Linked DNA regions of Homo sapiens: region 1 is linked to region 2. Evidence: fine-mapped expression QTL. A gene starts in region 2. The other region holds a variant in brackets. All regions are shown on one strand. Distances are from middle to middle.

Region 1 (11,071 bases), 43 kb before region 2:
TGAGTAGCTGGGACTACAGTTGTGTGTCACCATGCCCAGCTAAGTTTTTTATTTTTTGCAGAGGTGGGGTTTCACTATGTTGCCTAGTGCAGTATATTTATTTTAAAATAAGGAACTTGAAGCATAGAAGTGAAAGAGATTACCCCTAAAATTACAAATCTGTAGCGATGAAACCAGGTATTTGAAGTATGTCTTCTAACTAGAAATTAGTCCAAAGTCTTCCAAAATATAAAAAGTACAACTCTGAATACATTTCCTCAATGATCTACAGTGATGTAACATATCAAAAATATGAGTTTACTGACTCTAAAATGACATTTTTTTAATAATCAAGTAACCACCTTGATGGGGCAGAACCTGTATGTAGTACTGTCTTCCCAGTTGTGTCCATTCTTTGAATTACAAGATGATCTAAAACCATCTTCTTTTTCGCCCTTTCAAGAATATCTTCTTCAACTGATCCCTTTGTAACTAGACGATAAATATTCACCTGTAAAAATACACATGAGGAAACAAATTGCAGTATAAAGGATTTGTTTTGCTAACCTCAAGTGCCTAAACACTGGCACACAAATTGAAGCTCATTCTATATGAAGTTTTCACTGGTTAAAAGCAAAATGAAAATTTAAAAAACATGTTTAAAGCTAGAGTTCCTCAACTTAAGGGACTATTTTGAAACTATATCCTTCCTTCCTTCTTAATATTTTGATAAGGAGATTGCATTTGCTTATTTTTTTTTAAAGGAATGACAGTAATTTTTATGTTATGATTTAGCTGGGGAAAATGGGGGGGGGGCATGTAAACTTCTGATAGCCTTCTTATACTCGTTGCCTTGATTCTAATGTTTCATCACTCTATATAATGCAAAATTCTATGAACTACTCCCCAAGTTAATAAGAAACCCACCATAAAACAAACTCTCCAAAATTGAAAAGAATTGGTGTAGTAAATTTTCCCTATTTCTCTAGGTCAAAGATTCTGCAGTAAATTTTCCCTATTTCTCTAGGTAAAGGTTCAGTACCACCATTTAAGGGTATGTTGTTACAATTATAAAATGGGGTCACGTTTACATGTGGAGAATCTTGTAAGCACATGGACAAAATATAGACTAACAGAAAGGTAGCATATGCTACTCAAACTCCCTTTCAAGTTAAAATAAGCAAGTAAAGACGTTTTAAAGTTTTTATTATAAAATGAAAAACACTGCATTTTATAGTTACGACTAGAATACGGGATCAAAACAGAATACATGATCCTATATATGCATAGTTATCTCAATTCTGTCAGACTCTCCAGGTGATTTTGGTAAACCAAGCTCCTCAGTATCCTATCGGTTAAACAGTAGTATGACTGTTACAGTGATCTTATCCTCTAGAGGATAAACTGAAATCACTTCCAAAAAAAAAAAAAGAATTCTAAAACAGCAATATAATATAAATTAAAATTAAAAATACCTGTTTCTTTTGCCCAATTCGATGGGCTCTAGCCTGTGCCTGAAGATCATTCTGTGGATTCCAATCGGAATCAAATATAACAACAGTGTCAGCAGAGGCTAAATTAATCCCTAGACCTCCAGCTCTTGTGGACAGCAAAAAGCAAAAATCCTGTAAGAAATTGAATAATCAAAATGAAAAATTTTTCAATTGATTTTCTGAACGTAAGCAGTATGGTACTAATTAAACAGAAAGGCAGTTTTTAAAACTAATAAACATCTAGCAAGACCAATCAACAAAAAGACTCCAAAATCAAATATATATGTTATTAACACCAAATTCAATACAGTGTTTACTTCTGGTGAAAAAGAAAGAAAACGGGATAGGAAAGGAATGACACTTCAACTCTAACTGTAAATTTTATTTCCTTAAAAAATAAAAGGCATATACCAAAAAAAGAACTCTATGGAAAACAGCGTGGAAATTCCTTAAAGGAACTAAAAGTAGAACTACCACTTGATCCCAGGAATCCCACTACTGAGTATCTGCCCAGAGCAAAAAAGTCATTACATGAAAAAGATACTTGTACACACGATTACAGCAGCACAATTTGCAACTGCAACAATGTGGAACCAGCCCAAACGCCCATCAATCAACAAGAAGATAAACTGTGGTATACATACACAGTGGAAAACTACTCAGCCATAAAGAAGAATGAAATAATGGCATTTGCAGCAACCTAGATGGGATTGGAGACTAAATATATATATATATATATATATATATATATATATATTTTTTTTTTTTTTTTTTTTTTTTGACAGAGTCTCACTCTTTTTATCTTGGCTCACTGCAACCTCCACCTCCTAGGTTCAAGCAATTCTCCTGCCTCAGCCTCCCGAGTAGCTGGGATTACAGGCAGGCACTACCACACCCAGCTAATTTTTGTATTTTTAGTAGAGATGCGGTTTCACCATGTTGGCCAGGCTGGTCTCTAACTCTTTGTTTTTTGTTTTTTTTTTTTTGAGACGGAGTCTCGCTCTGTCACCCAGGCTGGAGTGCAGTGGCGCGATCTCGGTTCACTGCAAGCTCCGCCTCCCGGGTTCACACCATTCTCCTGCTTCAGCCTCCCGAGTAGCTGGGACTACAGGCGCCCGCCACTACGCCCAGCTAATTTTTTTGTATTTTTAGTAGAGATGGGGTTTCACTGTGTTAGCCAGAATGGTCTCGATCTCCTGACCTCATGATCCGCCCGTCTCAGCCTCCCAAAGTGCTGGGATTACAAGCGTGAGCCACCACGCCCAGCCTGGAGACTACTATTCTGAGTGAAGTAACTCAGGAATGGAAAACCAAACATTGTATGTTCTCACTTGTAAGAGGGAACTAAGCTATGAGGATGCAAAGTAATAAGAATGATACAAAGGACTCTGGGGACTCAGAGGGAAAGGGTAGGAGGGGGTGAGCGATAAAAGACTACAAATTTGGTTCAGTGTATACTGCTCAGGTGAAGGGTGCACCAAAATCTCACAAACCACCACTACAGAGCTTACTCATTTAACCAAATATCACCTGTTTCCCAAAAATCCACGGAAATAAAAAAAATTTTTTTTAAAGGAAAGTGGGCTACTTTGTTGTTTTTGGGTTTTTTCTTTCCCTTTTTTTTTTTTTGAGACAGAGTCTCACTCTATTGCCTGGGCTAGAGTCTAGTGACATGATCATGGCTCACCGCAGCCTCAAACTCCTGAGCTAAGTGATCCACTCAACTCAGCCTCCCAAGTAACTGGGACTACAACCGAGTGCCACTATGCCCAGTTTATTTTTTTTACTTTTTATTTTTATTTTTTTTTGTACAGACAGCAG[T/A]CTCACTGTTTCCCAGGGTGGTCTCAAACTCCTGGTCTGAAGCGATTCTCCTGCATTGGCCTCCCAAAGTGCTGGGATTACAGGGGTGAGCTACTGTGCCCAATCTGGCTAATTTATTTTGAAGCAAATTAAAATAACTGTTCCATGCTGAAACATTATTGATAATAAAGAGTAAAATTCTTGGCTGGGCGCGGTGGCTTCATGCCTGTAATCCTAGCACTTTGGGAGGCTGAGGCAGGTGGATCACCTGAGGTCAGGAGTTCAAGACCGGCCTAGCCAACATGGTGAAGCCCCATCTCTACTAAAACTACAAAAACTAGCTGGGCACAGTGGCACGCGCCTGTAATCCCAGCTACTTGTGAGGCTGAGGCAGGAGAATAGCTTGAACCTGGGAGGCAGAGGTTGCAGTGAGTTGAGATTGTGCCACTGCACTCCAGCCTGGGCCACAGAGTGAGACTCTGTCTCAAAGATAAAATCCTTAGGTTTAAACTAGAATAGTGACTTTAAAACCTCATTTGCTAATCAAAGGTGGCTAACACCACTCTTTTTTTATCAAACTAGATATGAAGATTAAAAATGTCTGAATATAATAATGTAATATACTGATACTAAATCAAAATTATTTATAATTTTAAAAGCACTAATACATACCTCTGATCCCTCAGCATTAAAATGATCTAGAGCTTGTTTCCTCAGTTCTCCTTTTATTGATCCATCTAATCTCTAGAAAAAAACACATTAAAATACTGCATAAACAGAATCAAAGTATTACAAAGCAATTAAAATCAATTATAAAATTAAGTAGAAATGTGAAGCATGTCCTTTGCTAAAACTATAATAGAAAGTACTTACTAGACAGTAAAATAATGCTCAGGCATTCTGTCTTTAGTCTGTGCTCCAAATCACTAAGACTGCACCCTCAAGAGTAAATACAGCATAGGCTGTCATACTATTCTGCCTGAGTCCCCATTCTAAAAGTATGTGATTGAGTACATAGCTGTTTGCAAACACCTGAAACAGTTTCATATCATGACATGATATACTATGTTATACTCTCATGTTTTATCATTTTACTTTCAAAATGTTGGTGCAACCCATTAAACTGATTCACAGATCCATTAACAGGTTACAATTCAGTTTTAAAAACACTGATTAAGTCCAGCGTGGTTACTAGAACAGCATTAGTGTCACCTGAGAACATAGATAAGCAAATTATTGAGTCCTACCCCAGACCTACTGAAGGTGTTTAGCAAAGGCCATCCAGTTAATTCTGATGCACACTAAAGTTTGAAAATTATTGATGTGAAGCATCATGGGTTCTAGTCAACAGCCAGCAAATGAGTATTTTATTCACTTGGTATCTTGAGCAAGTGATTTGACTTTTCTCCACAAACTTTTTCACCATGTCAGTTCCGCTTTAAACAAAACAGACATAATAGTAGTCCCTCCTTCATAGACTATAGAGAACTCAGTGAGAGAACACAGGAAAACATGTAGCACAGTGCCTACAACATACTGAACGCTTATTAAACATTAGCTGCTATTTCACTTTAGAAATGGCAATGATTTTATAATTATTAACTGGTTATAGACTAGAAATAACTTGTCTACTATGATCCATGCATTTAACCGACGAATTAAACTAGTATTTTGGGAAGCCATATGCCTACCTTTGCTTTGTTACTATATGAATTTTAACTCTGCGAAGAAAAAATATAAACATTTTAAATGATGTATTCTAAGTGGTTTAAATGAAGTGCTCTTAATTATCACCTACTCAAAGTAGGAAAACATGTCTATTAAAGTTTTAAAAAATTAAAATAATTTTTCTTTTCCACTAAAATACATATTAGTACAAATTTTAAGAATAGTGGCATCTCATTACTGTGGCATGACCTAAACCAAATAAAATTAAAAATTATTCTCTCCAGGAAGTGACCTAGGAATGAGAAGGAATTAGCAACAGAGAAGTGGCGCTTATTAACACTCAAAATTAGTCAAACTAATTTTTTGTTTGACTATGTACACAATAATTTGTTTAAAAACAAATCAACACAGGGCAGAAGAGGAAGGCAAATGGAAGGACAAGAGGAATAGCTAAAGGCTACAGGTTCTTTCTGATGAAAATGTTCTAAAACCACCTGTCGAACAATTATACACATCTGTGAACATAGTAAAAACCACTGAATTGTATACTTTAAATGAGTAAACTGTATGATATGGGAATTACGTATCAATAAAGGTGTTTTCAAAAACCTCAACTAATGGTACTCTTCTACGTTTTCCCCTAAATGACTGCAATTATTTCTCAATGATATTCCTATCACCAAATACCTGTCCTTCTTCACAACACTTACCAGAATTGTAATGTTACATTTATTTGTAATCACCTGCTTGATGTCTGTCTCCTGTAAGAGATGATAAGCTCTGACAAAGCAGGGATTGTGTGTTCAGTCCCATTATTATAATTTTACTGCTATTTTACTATCTGCACTAAATATACAGCATTTACTAGCTGTATCTACATAATGTCTGCTATGTTCCTAGTACTGTTCATAAAATTGCTTTGAGAATTAAGTAATTAGATCTGAAGTACTGAAAACAGCACCTGACTTTAAATACTCATCAATATTAGCTTTAGTTATATTGAATGAACTTCAATATAAATTTTGAATAGATGGAAGGGAATTTTGGTCTTTAGTTTCTTCTGTAAAGTTGTCTAGTTTTACTCAACAAACCCTGTGTCAGATAACTATGAGCACACCAATCATCAGAATCTTGGCAGCATTCACATTCAGAGACTACTGGCTGTTTTCCTCATTCAGATTGAAGACTAAAGGCTCCCCTGCTTTTAGATCTATCCAATCAAGAAAATTCTGCCTTAGTTCAGTTTTTAAAATCTAAAGCAAGCATAGAAGAAAAAGACAGAATTAAAAGAAAATAAAAATCACAGGAAAGGAAGAAAAATTGTTTTGTTGCAATATGTAAAGTCAAGAAAAACCGGGAATGACAAATATTTTTTAAAGCAGATACATCTTTTTAAAGAAAAAGTACAGTTTATATAAAAACCTAAACACTTATAAAATAATTTCAGTTAATTCTGTAAAATATGCACAGGAATTAGATAAAATTTAAAACAACAAATACAATTAAATGCTTACTTGAAAGGGGAATTGACGATATTTCAAATATTCTGCAAGTATATCTAACATCCGCACCATTTGTGAAAAAATAAGAACTCGATTGCCTCGTTCTCTTAGGCGAATTAATAGCTTGTCAAGAAGAATCAATTTTCCGCTACTACGAATTAAGTGCTACAGAAACAATTCAAGTTGTTATATGTTAAAAGACATAAATGGTAAGTTGTCCACGTAACACTTTAGTTGCCTGAATTATTTTAAATTGAGATTTTAAATTTTCATGTTAGAAAACAACTTATTTCACTTTTCAAAATTTTCTAAGACCTTTACCATTTCACTCTATGACTGAAGCTAAAATACCCTTTGCCATATCACACCTAGGTTTTGTTATACTATCGGGGAGGAAAAAAGTACTGTTCACTCTGTTTGCTAGTTACTATACCACAGTGTTTCTCCAAAAATCTTAGCTGAAGAACAATGACATCAGAAGCAGCAGCAACTAAGCAACCAAAGGTTTAAAAAGAGTAAGCAAATGCATTCTAATGTATTAATTCTAGATGCTGATCCTAGCCCTTCAATGCACTACAGTGGCTGGATTGCAGCTGTGCCTTCGCACTTCTGACTTATCTTCCAGAAGTACCAGGAAGGGTTAAGATGTGAGGTCAAGATGTCCTTTAGATTACCATTTACCAAATCACAAATGCAGCACAATTACTATTAACGATTTTTTCATAATTATGAACATACTGTGGGATTTTCTTGCTGGATAAGTTATTATAGGCCATGGTTTGAGAGACCTATTTTTAGAAAATTCATCAAAATAATTACATAAATTAGAATTTTAAAGTCTTTTCTACAAAGATTAATAACTGAGACCATTATAGAAAGGCACCATTAACTAAAGAGAACTTTTATCCAATAAGTTAAAGCATTGAGCCATTTTCGATTGTAAGTGAAATCAACATTTCTAGAACTTTATCACAAAGAAACAACATTTAAAAATTCTTACTTGTAAGGCCTCCTGTTTATTATAGAATTCATTATTATCTGGTGGTTTAATGAGGTAGCAATGGTTACAACATTTCTTTAGCTCCATCATAATGTTCAAAAAGCCTGAGGTACTGCCCTTGGAACCTTTGCTGAGGGCTTTGTAATTCCTAGTTAAAATCCATCTTAAAAAAAAAAATTATGAAAACGATGTTTAGCAGAACAATTACCAGGATAAATTCTAAAAGCATTAAAACAAACAAAAAAAGCCAACGATAGTACCAAAGTAAAACTGTACCGTTATAAAATTCACAGCTGTATATACAACGGACCAAACCTCTTTCATAATACTCATGAGAACACAACTTGTTTTCTGAACCATTAGCTATACACAGAACAGGCTAATGTAACATAATTATTACAGTGTATTAATCCTTTCCCCTCAAATTTGCTAAAAAGATGGTCAGCTGCATTATTTATCTGAATCTTCTTACAACTTTTACTGCATTAGACAGCTAATGAAACTGAATTATTTTGCATGGACCTAAAAGAAACCTGAGGATACCTGGTTTTAGCCACGACTGCCTTCTCTAGATTGCAATTACACAATACATATGTAACTTATAGAAAACATCTTGGTGATATTTTACTACTCCAAACTACATGTAACAATTCCTGTGCTCACTTCGGCAGCATTTATACTAAAACTGGACCAATACAGAGATTAGAATGGTCCCCATACAAGGATGACATGCAAATCCATGAACACTCCATATTTTTGTATATATATCCCATGAATACTACACAGCCACAGAAAAAAAAGGATGAAATAATGCCCTTCAAATAAAATAATATCCATGGATGGAGCTGTAGACCATAATCTAAGTGAATTAACACAGAAACAGAAAACCAAACACCGCATGTTCTCACTTACAAGTGCAAGTTAAACACTGAGCACACATGGACATAAACATGTAACAACACTGTCGACTACTAGAGGGGGGAAGGAGGGGAACATGGGTTGAAAACTACCCACTGCGTACCATGCTCACTACCTGGATGCAATATTACCCATGTAACAAACCTGCACATATACCTCCAGTATCTAAAATAAAAGCTGAATTTAAAAAAGAAAAGAAAAATTTCCTCTCACCATGACCTTTTCCACCTTTTATTTTCTTCCTTTTTACAAGGTCAGTTTTTGAAGGGACTTGAAAGTCTCAAATATCTAGTGTACATACTCTTTTATTACCATTCTTTACCACTAGTTATACAGGCAGTTCCCCAAAACTGGAATGAAAAGCAAAACGAAACCCATGGACAATGCTCAATGCCCTAAGAGGTAATCAAGAATAAAGAATATTTTTCCTTATCCAGAAAAAATTTATTATTAATTTCTCTAGAGGTAAAAATTCTAAGAATTTTTCCAGAAATTTATGGCAGTATCTTATTACCTTAGTTGCCAAAAAGTACCTTGAAGAGTTTAAGTTCAACATCCATGATATATGACTAGCACTAAGAGAATTACAGGTGAATGTGTCTTCTTCCTACTTTGACTTTTCTTTCTAAATATTCTACAAAATGCATTACTTTTTTTAAAGAACCCCATAACAAAATTAGATAATCGCCATTGTGTACTACAAAATATACTCTTCTCATAATTATTAATTTGAATATTATCAAGCACCTACATCTACCTACCAATCTGTAGGAAATACAGAGGATACTGTTAAACTATTTTAGAGGGAAGTACTATGCAAAATCTAGATTGTGGAAAAATTCTACAGAATAACTGTTTTCCCCATCGTATACATTTTAACAAAAAAGAAGTACCTATAGATAATAAACTCAGAGACAAATCAATTGCCATATATGAACCTATCTCAATCCCAATTCGAGTAAACGTAAAAAAATTTTTTGAGACAACAGAGAAAACTTGAACACTGATACTGAATATTGGTATCAAGAAATTGATTCTGCTGAGAGAGCAATAATTTCCTAAATTGTGAAAATTTTAAAGTGGGTTATTTATTTACTTAAGATGGGGTCTCACTCTGTCACCCAGGCTGGAGTGCAGTGGCATGACCTCGGTTCACTGCAACCTCTGCCTCATGGGCTCAAGCGATCCTCCCACCTCAGCCTACCAAGCAGCTGGGACCACATGCACCCACCACCACTCCTGGCTAAGTTTTTTGTATCTTGAGTAGAGACAGGGTTTTGCCATGTTGCCTAGGCTGGTCTCAAACTCTTGAGGCTCAAGTGATCTGTCTGCCTCAGCCTCCCAAAGTACTGGGATTACAGGCATGAGCCACTGGGCCCAGGTGATACTAGTATTTTTAAAAATCAATTATTAGAAATACACAGAAAAATATTTATGGAAAAATTTCCAATCTGCTTCAAAAGGACAGGTACTGAGGGAAATGGGGATGACCAGAGATACATAAAAAGACTGGCATGAGTTGAAAGGGAAGCTGGGGCTGGGCACAGTGGCTCATACCTGTAATCCCAGCACTTTGGAAGGCTGAGGCGTGTGGATCGCTTGGGGCCAGGAGTTCAGGATCAGCCTGGCCAGCATGGCAAAACCCTGTCTCTACTAAAAATAAAAAAATCAGCAGGGCATTGTGGGGCACACCTGTAAACCCAGCTACTTGGGAGGCTGAGGCACCAGAATCATTTGAAACCAGAAGGTGGAGGTTGCAGTGAGCCAAGATTGTGCCACTGTACTCCAGCCTGGAGTACAAAGGGAGACTCCGTCTCAAAAAACAAACAAACAAAAAAAAGAAAGAAAGTGAAGCTGAGTCATGGGTATAAGAGTTCATTAAATTATCCTATTTTTGTATATGTCTGACATCTTCCATAATAAAAATAATTATGCAATTAAGTATATTCTTTCAAATGTATGGCACCTATAGATTTACCATAGAATATAAATGTTTCTGAAACTCCAAATGCATGTAGCAATATATTTCCTTTTATGCAATTAAATGTTTAAACAGATATTAGAACAGATTTTCCTTTCTGATTCTTTGAAAAGTCCTACTGTATAGATCTTGACATACAAAATTTATACCAGCTATGATTTGTTAATACTCTTCAAAAAGCAGCAGAGCCTAAAATTTTTTTCTAAGTTTCTTTTTTTGGCCTCTGTTAATTGTCATAATCATATAATACCTTTATTATTGTGGAAATCCTAACACTTAAACTCTTTATAAGATAACAGTATGATATATAGGAAAGCAATTAATTATGTGTCAGAAGATGAATTACTCAGTGTTGTCACTCATAATTTTGGATATGTCATTAAATCTCCTTTTGCCTCCTAACGACACAGAATAAACTTATTCTGAAACTCGAGAATTGCAACTGCTCTAAGACACTATTGTAGAGAAGGTGGGGGCACCAAAAGCAGGACACAGACATGGAAGGTTTTCAGAATTAGAAGTTCAGAACTGTGTTCTGTGTACAGCTTACTTGTAATATTGTTTCTGTAAAGCACTCATTTCCATTCTTAAAATCTGCTCAACCTTGGCAGGAAGAGATTTTTCCACATCTTTCTTAACTCGGCGTAACAGAAATGGCTCAAGCTCCTTGTGAAGGCTTGCATAACCATATTCTCTCCCTTTGCCATGTTCTTCTTCAAAATCTTCCCAG
Region 2 (11,071 bases):
AAGAAAAAAAAAATTGTGGGTGGACAATATGACTCTTCTATTTACTTAACTATAGTCAGTAGTCAACATACCTATAGAGATTTGAATCAAAGCTCAGATTCAAAAGTCTTTTAATTAAACCTCAACTCTGGTGATTCTAGTAAAACTTTACTGTTTGAAACTTTACGATGCACTTTGTAATTAATTAAAATGAAACTTCAATATCAGTTCAATCCTTAGAGTTGAGGCAATCATATGAGTTTTAATTAATGCAGAGATAGCATCAACTCAGGTTGTATAACTCCTAGACCAATACTTGTTCAAGTAATAATGCTGCTTTCCATAACTGTTCCTTATTTTATTCTCTATGATGTTCTTGCTTATCCAAACAGTATGTATGAAAGCTGATAAACTAAAGTATAACTAGCAAGGTCAGAAAATTCCAAGTGTCAGGCCTGGCGTGGTGGCTCATGCCTATAATCTCAGCACTTTGGGAGCTCGAGGCAGGTGGATCACTTGAGGCCAGGAGTTCGAGACCAGCCTGGCCAATGTGGCGAAACCCCATCTCTACAAAAAAAATACAAAAATTAGCTGGGAGTGGTGGCTAGCGCCTGTAATCCCAGCTACTCCGGAGGCTGAGGTAGGAGAAACACTTGAGCCTGGGAGGTGGAGGTTGCAGTGAGCCGGGATCACACCACTGCACTCCAGCCTGGGCGACAGAGCAAGACTCTGTCTCAAAAAAAAAAAAAGAAAAAGAAAAGTCCAAGTTTCAGATCAAATACAAATACCACTATTTAGTTTTCTATCTAACATTTTTTCTTAATCTTCCTAATTGCCAAAACTTTCCTGTTTCTTGTCCACCCCCATGTCTCCATCACTGTAATTAATGTTTTTTTTATATAGTATCCTGTGTTACACAAAACATGCTGGTTACAATAAGCAAATATTCAGTGCTCATTATCTCAGAAAATATTTTAAGCCCTTTACATGAAGCATCTCAATCCTCAAATTTTTTTTAAATTTTATTTTTTATAAATTACAGACAAAGTCTCACTATGCTGCCTAAACTGGTCTCCAACTTTTGAGTTCAAGTGATCCTCCTTCCTCAGCCTCTCAAAGTGCTGGGATTACAAACAGGATCCAACAAGCCCAGCCGTGAACTTTAAATAAGATAAACAATAGTTTAATCCCCTCTTTATGGGGCAAAAATCAGAGCCTCAGAGATTAAGTAATTTGCCCTAATTCACACAACTAATAAGAGGTAGAAATAGGGTAAGCAAACAGTTTGACTCCAGTGCCCACATTCCTAATTTCTATATATGATAATGCATATAACTACATGGATTGTAAACTAATGTGCAGATAACTCAAAATTTGAGAGCTACAGAATTTAAAGAATCTTCTTTGCAAACACTTGACCCAAGCAAGAACTCTTAACTCCTTCACAGATAATTAAAACTCCAATCTGAAAATAAAAAAGGGCCACAGTAATATTTCAACAAATGTCTGGCTCAGCACTGTCTAAAACTTTCTCCAGTGATAGAATGTTTTCTATGTGCTGTCCAATATGGTAGCCACTAGCCACATGTGATTATTCAGCACTTGAAATATATCTAGTATGACTAAGTAAATTCTGAATATTTTGTAATTGAGTTCAAATAGCCACATGTGGCTAGTGGTTACCACACTGGACAGTACAGGTATAGAAGACAAAATGCCAGAAAAAGATGAGTGAAAAAATTTTTATTGCCTTCATCTAGAAATTTCACTAACAGTCAAAACAATTTAAATCTATTATACATGCTCCAGCTTAATTATTAGCTCAAATATAAACTTCCAAATAGATTTAAGTAAACAAAAACTTTCTATATTTAAGATCTACTGTGTATCTGAATGAAAAATATAATTAAAACCTGTATTATGAAAAAAGGTTCGTATATCAGAATTTTTTTAGTATTTGGATAGCTAAGAGGAAAACCTGAAAACTCTGCTACCTATGAGGAAAACTAAATAACAACAATAACAATAAAGAAAAAAGTCAAGTTTTCAACTCTCTTCATAGTAAACAATTGATAACAAAGTGCTTACTTACCTTGATTCTCCACTACTGTTTCTAACACTTTCTTCATCACTGTGTCCATTCATTGTAAATTATTATCAAGAAGTTTTAAAGTAAAATATAAATCTTCCCAGTTTAAAAGATGAATATAAATACTGACTCCTTGAATATAAAAATTCACAGATGAATTTTCTTCAACAGTCACAGGTTTTCTGGGACTCTCCTTTGATTCACCTAAAGAAAATATATTAATAAATTAACAAAATTTCCTGCAGAAAAAAGGTAAATTAAGCCCTGTCTAAAACGTATAAATCTACGTAGGCCAATTAGACTACAGCTGTTAAGGAAGAAGTGGGGGCCTTTTATTAAATACTTAAAATATCTAGACTTGTAATAACTACACTCCTGACTGCTAACTAGAATTTAGTATGCTACTGCTAATATACTTCGGACAGAAAAAATTAAAATATTTGTGGAGTGAAAGGATTTTTAGAGACTAACTGCAACTAACAATGTTTTTATAGACTCCTAAAGCAAGGTGATACGATGTAACATATGCATACATCCCAAGAGTAGATAACGGAGTCTTATTAGATAACTTGGTCGAATAAATGAAGTGGGGGGGGGGGTGGGAGGAGGTTACCTTTAATCAAGCCCTCACTCCTATCACCAAGAACTTCATACACTTGAGTGAGAAAGTTCTGAAAACGCTCCCATGGGAGGAACAGGCAAATAAAAGATACCATATACTCTCAACAAAAATGCATAGCTCAAAATAAATGTGTTATTTAACAGGTAAACGGATAGTGGGATGATAACATTTAAATAATACTTAACCAGTTTGCACTTGGTTTTTATTTTGTGAAAAAAATTGAAAAGGTAATAGAATATACACTATATCTGATTTTTTACGTAAAAAATTTGGGGCAAGAATAATGAACCAAGACACACCATTTCCACCTTTAAAGATTTCAGTACAACACTGAAGAATCACCTACAAGCCATCCACGAATAAACAAAGGAGATCTCTGGCAGGGGAGGGAGAGGAAGAAGCGGGGGAAGGAGACGTCAGATCCTTCCCCAGCCAGAAAGTACCGAGACAGCCAACTGAGAGCAGAGCTGTCCTCCGACCTCAGCAAAGAGAATTCACTCCTACGATTATTTCCATTCCACAAGAGAGGGAGGGAAACAGATTGTTACCAACTCAATGATAGCAAAGTCTGCATCTGGATCAGGATGTTAATTCTCTAGACTACTGTCCAGTAGACTCTGCAAGAACAGGTTATCTAAAAAGTAACCGTTCTACTCAACATTTATTCCTAATGTTAAATATTAATCTCAACCCTAGTCAAAGTGCCTTACTGAACAATTAAGTCTTAAAAAATCTAAGTATGTTAACAAACTGCCTTTCCCGTTTCTTCCTTTAAAAAGTTCACTCCCCTTTTCGTTCTTTCCTTTTCACCTTCCTTTCGTCCCTCAAAATGGCTTTCTCTGTACATTTTAACTTCCTTTCCCCTCCATCTCCCTTATCCGAATAAGTCCTCTGAGACCCTTTTCACAACCCTGAGTTCTGAAGCTCCAAGCGCACACAGCGCTGTGTCCTCTCAAGCGTCTCCACAATGACTACCCTAAGTTATTAAACCTCTTCAATCCTCTGTCTTTTAGCAGTTGCTTTGCTCCTGCTAAGTTTTTAAAGCGGCACTCGAAAGAGGTTTGGAAACCATCCTCACTCATCCATCCAGCGCGCTCCAATCAGCCTCCCTCGCGGACCTGCCCCCCTCTCCCAGGGCCTCCATCCCGGTCCAGGAGTCCCTCTTCCCGCCTCAAACTTCCCGCAGACCCGCCCCGCGCCCTCCCAGGCTCGCCCGAGCCGCCGCCCCCTCCCCCTCCCGCCGCTCCCCACGTGCTGGGAGCCCGGGTCGCGGCAGGACCCACGCACCGGCTAAGTGCTAGCCATTCGCGGGTCTCCTCTCGCGGCCCGGTCGGCACCAAGCCGAAGAGGCCGGGGCAGGGCCGCCGGGCCGGCGCAAGGATGCGTTCTGCGGCCCCGGCCTGTACTCGCCGCTCACACGCCCCCTGCGCGCCAGGCCCGTACACCGCCACCGGCACTCACAGAGCCACCCGGCCTTCACCCGGCCGCTGGGCCGCCGCCTGGGCACCGCGCCGCGCCCGCCCTCCGCCCGGCCGGTTCCTGTCCTCTCCGCCACATCCTGACCCGCCCGCCGCCCCCTTTCTTACCGGCGGGCTTGGCGGGGCGGAGGGAGCCGACTCGGGTGGACGGCCTCCCCCGCGCCCAGGCCCGGGATCTCCGCCGCCCAGTCCTAGGGCTCCGGCGTCTCGGGGTAAGCAAGAGTCCGTGCGGGGGAGGGGGAAGGGGACAGACGCGGAGGGGAAGGGGAAGCCCCGGTCCGCAGCACCAACGCGCGATCCCCTGCGGAGTGGAGCTAACAATTCATTATTGAAGCACCAAGGGCGAGGGCAGCAAGAGCTATAAGTAACCAGTCGTCGCCGCCGCCGCCGCCGCCGTCGCGCGCGCGCTCCCGCTCCCTCCGCTTATCTGCCCCCGGCAGCCGCCATGACGCCGAGAAAGCAAGCGAGCGCAACCGTCTCCGTCGTAGCCGCCGCCGCCACCGAGGTCGCCGTCGCCTCCGCCTCCCGCGCGACGTAAGCGCCTCTGCTCACTCCCCTTCCCGACAGAGCGCGAGGCGGGCGGGCGCGCGCACGCCGAAGCCTTTCTGCTCGCGCGCGGGAGGCGGGAGGGACTACGTTGAAGGGTCGTGGGCGTAGGAAAAAAGCGATTGGTGCTGGGGCGGGGCGGGGGGGGCGAGTGCGCGCACGCGCACGAATGGGAGTGCGCACGGCGGATGCGCAGAGGCTGTCGGACTCTGACTGCGCGGAGACCGCTGGACTCTGGTCGCGGCCTTAGTCCGCTGATCCTCGCTTGGGTGCCCGCCCTTAGCGGCCCGGCGTTGAATTCCGGGAAGTGGGAGCTTCAGGCTCGCTCCGTGCGGGTATGGGCGCTAATGTCACTTGGGATGGTTGCGCAAGGACATCGCGGCGGACACTGACAAGGAACCGGGGAGGAACGGGGGTGGGGAGAGACTGCGATGGGACTCGGGAAGCCGGGAAGGGCCGCGCTGAATAAGCCTAAGGGGCCGGGTCGCAAGGAGTGTCGGGTAGCACAGGCCTCGGCTCAGTCGGAGCGCCAGGCCTCAGGGTCCGGGCGGGGGCTGCTGCGTCACACCAGGCAGCCTGGGAACGCAACTGTTGGGCAACCGTGGTGGCCTCTCGCCACCTCTTACGCTTGGGCGATCTGCGATTGACGCATCCTGGGAGCTGATGTCCCGCACGGGCGGGGCGCCGGAGGAGGAGAGAAAATAGAGACCCGGTTGTTGACAGCCTGTGATGCCGCTTGATTCATGTGTGGGTGGCCTGGTTTAGAAATGTACCACCCTTCCTTTCTAGGTTCCTCCCCGGAGGGCGGGGTGACGGGTGCGGCGCCGAATCGCAACAAAAAACGCTGCTCGAGGGATGTTAGTAACTGTCTCAGCTTAAGTTGCTGCCTTTTAGCTTACAGTTTGTATCGTAACTGTAATTGTGGATCTTAGTTAAATCCCTTCAGTGTGTTGGAAACATATTTTTAAGTGTATTTTTGAAACATACTTAGAGCATTTTGAAATGCTTTTTTGAAAGCGTTTTTTAAATCAAAATTCTGTTACACTTTATTTTTTTCAGTCTGCAGATGAACTTGACTCACTCAAGGTTAATGATTTTTGTTTTTTATTTATGTTTGTAGAGGCGGGGTTTTGTCATGTTGCTAGGTTGGTGTTGAACTCCTGAGCTCGAGCGATCCACCTGCCACTGCCTTCCAAAGTGCTGGAATTACAGGCGTGAGCCACGGCGCCCGGTGGCCGAGGTTAATAATAATTAAAAGTTTCTAATCCCATTGTTCAGTTATTTGATTTGGTGTAAAGGCGCACTTTCCAAGTCAGATGAGTTTGTGGTAACATACATTCCCCAAATAATTATTTTTCCCTTGTGGGAAATATTCCAGTTTTAGGCTACCAGCTGTTTAAACAGTTTGGTTCAAATCCTTCAAAAAAATCTCAAAACATAACTCCACATATGTATTTACTACATATTGAAGGGTGTATTCACTTGGAGAAGTAGGAGAAAGCAAACAGATGCCAATGGCCTTTTTGAAAACATGTATCTATCAGCAATAATTGAATAGCAAAACGAAGTGGAACACTACCATCCTTTGCAATATTAGATAGTTTTAATACTGGGTTGTGAGGAATGAAAAGATCATACAAATCGTCATTTCTGAAGTCATTTCTGAAGTCGTCATTTCTGAACTGAGTGCTAATTTTTCATATTAAGCTTTATGTTAATATCCTTAATGAGAGGAACTTCCTGTGCCCGTAATTTCTCCAGAGAAACTATTAACATACACAGAATGTTGTAATCAGAAGTATAGTTCAGTTAATAAAGTCCTCAATTACAACTCTGACATTTTGTCATTGTCTTATGAAAAGAATTACTGTATATACAGTCTATTTTACGTTTTCCGGAAGCACGTCAGGCAGGTTTTTTGTTTTTTTACTACTAATTGTGCCATTGAATATGCTATTCTGTCGTATTGTGCCATCAAACATGCTATTCGAAAAAAGATCTTGCCCAATTTGTAATAAAATATTGAACATTGGAGATTTAGATTTCGAGTAAAATCATACTTTATTGCTTTGCAGAAGTACACAGTAGGTGGAAAATTGCAACAATCTTGCCAGTTCATTTTTTAAAAAGCGTGTAGGTAATCCAAAGATACCTTTTTGATGATTTGTTATCAACATAGTTAAATTTGCAGTGTCACTTTATTTGAATAAACTAGCTTTATCTCTACTTAGTGGTACTAAAACAATAGCCAAACAGTTGATAATCTCAACACATGACTAACGAAAAATTCCACATAATTAACATTAACCAGGAGGTTTTTGTTACTATTTAATTTCTCATTTTTAAAATTTCATATTCTTTGGAAAGAATATTACTTTTCCGGAATCTAAGACAGCATTTTGTGGGTCCTTAATTGTGATATGCTTTACTAGGTAAAGTACTAAATGGGTATCCTTAGGTGGGGATAGGCTGGGAACCACATATCCAGAATTGTGAAATATATAACATAAACAGGATAACTTGCTCCTTTGTTAGCTTTTTGGATGCCAGGGTTAAGATTTTAATTCCATAATTATGTCCTTGTTGCCTGGAGGATTTGCATATGAGAAACCACAAAAACAATCGGGACATTATTAAAATACCCTAGAATCTCAACCTGTGACAGTATTTCCCATGTCCTTGCAAAACCAGAGGAAGTCTTTCCAATATGATTCTTAAATTTACAAAGTCCTCTGAATAGAAACCATGAAATCCTAAGTCATCTTCTAGTGAAGATTTGCTGTACATTTTCTGTTTTCCTAATAAGAAATTAGAGGAGTTTAGTTCCCAGTGTTGGGCAAGGGATAGGACTCAGTCACCTGGAAAGTTCTTTTGTAACTACACGTGCCTGACACTCCTATTCTTCCCCTCTGCTGATATGCAGAATTTCTAGGTTCTAGGTAGTATTTGGGAAGTTTCCCAGATTATTCTGATATCTACCAGCGGCTCATCCACCTTCTTTATGGTCACTGTATTTGGGGATTTTGAATGATAAATTCTTGAATCACTAAAAGCTAAATTTCAAACAGAAAATTGTTAGAGATGATACTAAGAGGCAAGTATGTATAAAATCTAATAGGCATTGAAGAAGATACAAAGATTCCATCCTCTACTGAAAAATTAAGTGTGCACGCAGAGTAAGAAAGAAGGTTAAGTAGCCAACCTCAAAAATATTTAAAAATTATTGCATTGATGCTGTATCACTCATTTCCTTGCCCAGATTCTTTTTTTTTTTTTTTTTTTTTGAGACAGAGTCTCACTTTGTCACCCAGGCTGGAGTGCAGTGGTGCTATCTCATTTCACTGCAATCTCCGCTTTCTGGGTTCAAGTGATTCTCATGCCTCAGCCTTCCAAGTAGCTGGGACTACAGGCACGCGCCACCACACCCAGCTAATTTTGTGTACTTTTAGTAGAGACTGGGTTTCACCATGTTGGCAAGGCTGGTGTCAAACTCCTGACCTCAGGTGATCTGCCTGCTTCAGCCTCCCAAAGTGCTGGGATTACAGGTGTGAGCCACCATGCCCAGCCCTTGCCCAGATTCTTTATTCACTGCTGTCCAAATACTGTTGGTCCTCTGTACCTGCAGGGATTTGCAGGTACAGAGGCTCAACTATAAGGGACTTGAGCATCCCCAGGTTTTGGTAAATGGGGGTCCTGGAACTAATTCTCTGCAGATACTGAGGGACAAACGGTACCACTCATTTTAATGCAGAAATTTTGTATTCATCCTTTCTTTTTAACTCCCACTACCGGGCTTAGTTTAGGCCTCTATTTTCTCTATCTTTCCCTTCAGCTTATCCTTTAGGTTTCCTTCAAACTTGAAATCTAACTAAATCAGTCCCCTGTTATATACCACATATATTTGTAAACTAAACATATATGAAGATGTATGTACATATCATATATTCCTAGTATTTTAGTTACTTAATTTTTTCACAGACTAATCTCAGTATTGCCTCTCATCATTCCTAATGGACACTTGGTACTCTAGACACTTCTTCAGGTCACTGGAAAGGTATCTCTCATTGTAAGTGGATATAACCCATTTATCTTATGGGTCAGTCTTTCATAAGTTCGTTTAAGTAAATGCTCAAGAACTGTTGAGTACCTTGACACAATTGTGCTGACAACCTATAAGACTTGTCAGAAAACTCTCTGACCTCCCTTTTAGGACATGGAATTGAGTATTCTGTAAGTGCGGCATGTCATTGTATCACAATATAGCATTTGTTTCCATACTACATTGTGAGGTCCTTGAGCAAAGAGTACTGTGCCCCAGTGCATTGTATTGATATTCATTCAATACAAATGTAAGAATGTATTACATACCAGACATTCTGCTGAGGGTAGGGAGGGATTATAATACAGCAAAAACTAACACTTTCAAAGTTAAAGCCTAGTTCAGGACACAGTCACACTATAAAATGACAACTTAGAAAAATAGTATGAAGAGACATACGGTGCTGTGAGAATCCATAATAAAGAACCCTAGTCAGAAAAGTCTCAAGGAAGTGACGTGATCGTTGTGGTCTAGAGCTGAAGAATTAATATGAATTAGGTAGGCAAGAAAGGGAAGTACAAGAGCTGCTTTCTGGGTAAAAGAAACAACATGGGCAAAGATTCTGGGGTCAGAGAGATCACGTCAGTGCACTTGCCAGTTTGCCAAGAACAGGCCGTATTCACTTTCAGAAGTGTTCAGGTTTGGATAGTAAATTGCAGGGCCATCCTATCTATAAGGGACTCTAAGAAGCATGGTTCTGCTGGAGCAAACAGCAGCTGGACAAGATGAGGCTACATAGACACTAGGCCCAAAGGCTAAGTGAAGTATGTTTTTCAAGACAATGAGGAAGCTATTGAAGGATTTGAAACTGGGTGGTAGCTTGATGGGACTGGCAAATTGAAAGTTTTTACTTTAGGTATAAATCCCAAAGAAGGATTAGATGTGGGTTGAAGTAGATACAGTATTCCTAATTAAGTCAGGAGTCTTTGGCAGATAAGAGAGGTTAGAAATGACATGATAGACTAGGATAGTGTAATGGAGGTGGAGAGAAGTAGAATTGGGAAGGGTAACAAAACTTGATGGGATTGGATTCAGGCAGGGTTAGGAGGAGGAGGGATGTTAGTCATTTGCAGCTGAATGACATTCACTTATATAGTAATGTATTTGGAGATGTATAGATAGGGAGATCATTACGTTTGGTTTAAGACAGAATTGGGCCGGGTGTGATGGCTCATCCCAGCACTTTGGGAGGCCAAAGCGGGTGGATCACAAGGTCAGGAGATCGAGACCATCCTGGCCAACACGTTGAAACCCTATCTCTACTAAAAATTAAAAATTAAAAAATTAGCCGGGCATGGTGGCATGCACCTGTAGTCCCAGCTATTTGGGAGGCTGAGGCAGGAGAATGGATTGAACCTGGGAGGCGGAGGTTGCAGTGAGCCGAGATCGTGACACTGCCTTCCAGCCTGAGCGACAGAGCTAGACTCTGTCTTGGGAAAAAAAAAAAAAAAAAAAAAGACTTACAGAATTTCTGATGCCTTTGAATTGCCCAGGAGGTTTCTGGATAGAACCATGGAGCTAAGTGAAGTCTAGACTGAAAATTAAAGCTGTTAAGTGTGAAGTGTGTAGGGAAAAATTAAAGTCTTGAGTATTCATGAAGTAAACTTGGAAGACAGCCTAAGTGTGTGCAGTGAAGAATTCCAGTTTATTTTTGACTAGGTAGAGGAAGATGAACTGGATAAGGAGGAGTTACACAGTTACCAGCAGGGTGTTGCGCTACTGAAGATGAGTAAGGCTTCATGGAAAGAGTGGTGAATAATGTCCAGTTGCTGTATAAGAATTAGGTGGAAGGATTAGCACATATTAATCATCTAAAAAACAAATACATTAATATCTTCAAAGTCTGATTTGGGAGAATTTGTTTTCATTGTTTTTTTTCAAACAGGAACTGAACAATACCATCATTTACAGTTACGGGCTATGGGTGGTCACTTAATTGGTGTGATTTGAGACTGAGAACCTCCTGTTCCACAAATCTATACTTCATCCTCTACTAATGCTTGAAAAGTCATTGATAGAAATCTGTTTTAAAGCATATATTCCTGGGAAGAGTAATATGTTTAGAAGATACATAATTCTCAGCTGTGCCAAAATTTAGAATTAACTGAGGAGTTGTGTACTAAAAATGCTCAAGATTATATTCCATGGTTCTGAGGTGGGGCCTTGGCACATGCATTTTTTTAAAAGCTCCCCTAGGTGATTCTAATGTGCCATTGTTGAAAAATCATTGACAGCATCCTATTAACACAGTATTGACT

Direction of the effects. Positions count from the first base shown, and alleles are read on the strand shown. Sizes are in standard deviations (SD) of each study's normalised expression.
For the expression in monocytes after Pam3CSK4 of the gene that starts at base 4,745 in region 2, T is the high allele of the variant in region 1 and A is the other (large effect, 1.0 SD a copy in Quach 2016).

The links. PIP is the estimated chance that this variant, and not a neighbour inherited with it, causes the effect. A credible set is the group of variants that fine-mapping cannot tell apart.
Region 1: its variant is the best candidate, but not a certain one, in a credible set for the expression of CHD1 in monocytes after Pam3CSK4 (Quach 2016, PIP 0.68).

What each region holds. Positions count from the first base shown.
Region 1 is chr5:98,881,634-98,892,704 of GRCh38, forward strand. CHD1 (chromodomain helicase DNA binding protein 1) reads right to left here. Exons shown (of 36, transcript NM_001270.4): 15 at 10,892-11,071; 16 at 7,443-7,605; 17 at 6,455-6,607; 18 at 3,945-4,016; 19 at 1,455-1,604; 20 at 342-490. It also overlaps the pseudogene RNU6-402P. Among named protein-coding and RNA genes, the nearest start is that of CHD1-DT, 41 kb to the right of the region's middle. The variant T/A (reference allele first, on the strand shown) is at 3,294.
Region 2 is chr5:98,924,263-98,935,333 of GRCh38, forward strand. CHD1 (chromodomain helicase DNA binding protein 1) reads right to left here and starts at 4,745. Exons shown (of 36, transcript NM_001270.4): 1 at 4,277-4,745; 2 at 2,072-2,272. The coding sequence starts at 2,124. It overlaps CHD1-DT (CHD1 divergent transcript), which reads left to right and starts at 4,300. Exons shown (of 4, transcript NR_151718.1): 1 at 4,300-4,380. It overlaps LOC100289230 (a long non-coding RNA gene), which reads left to right and starts at 4,872. Exons shown (of 1, transcript NR_036530.1): 1 at 4,872-6,747. RefSeq lists silencers at 3,889-4,518, 4,779-4,988 and enhancers at 4,762-5,660, 5,149-5,478, 9,434-9,613.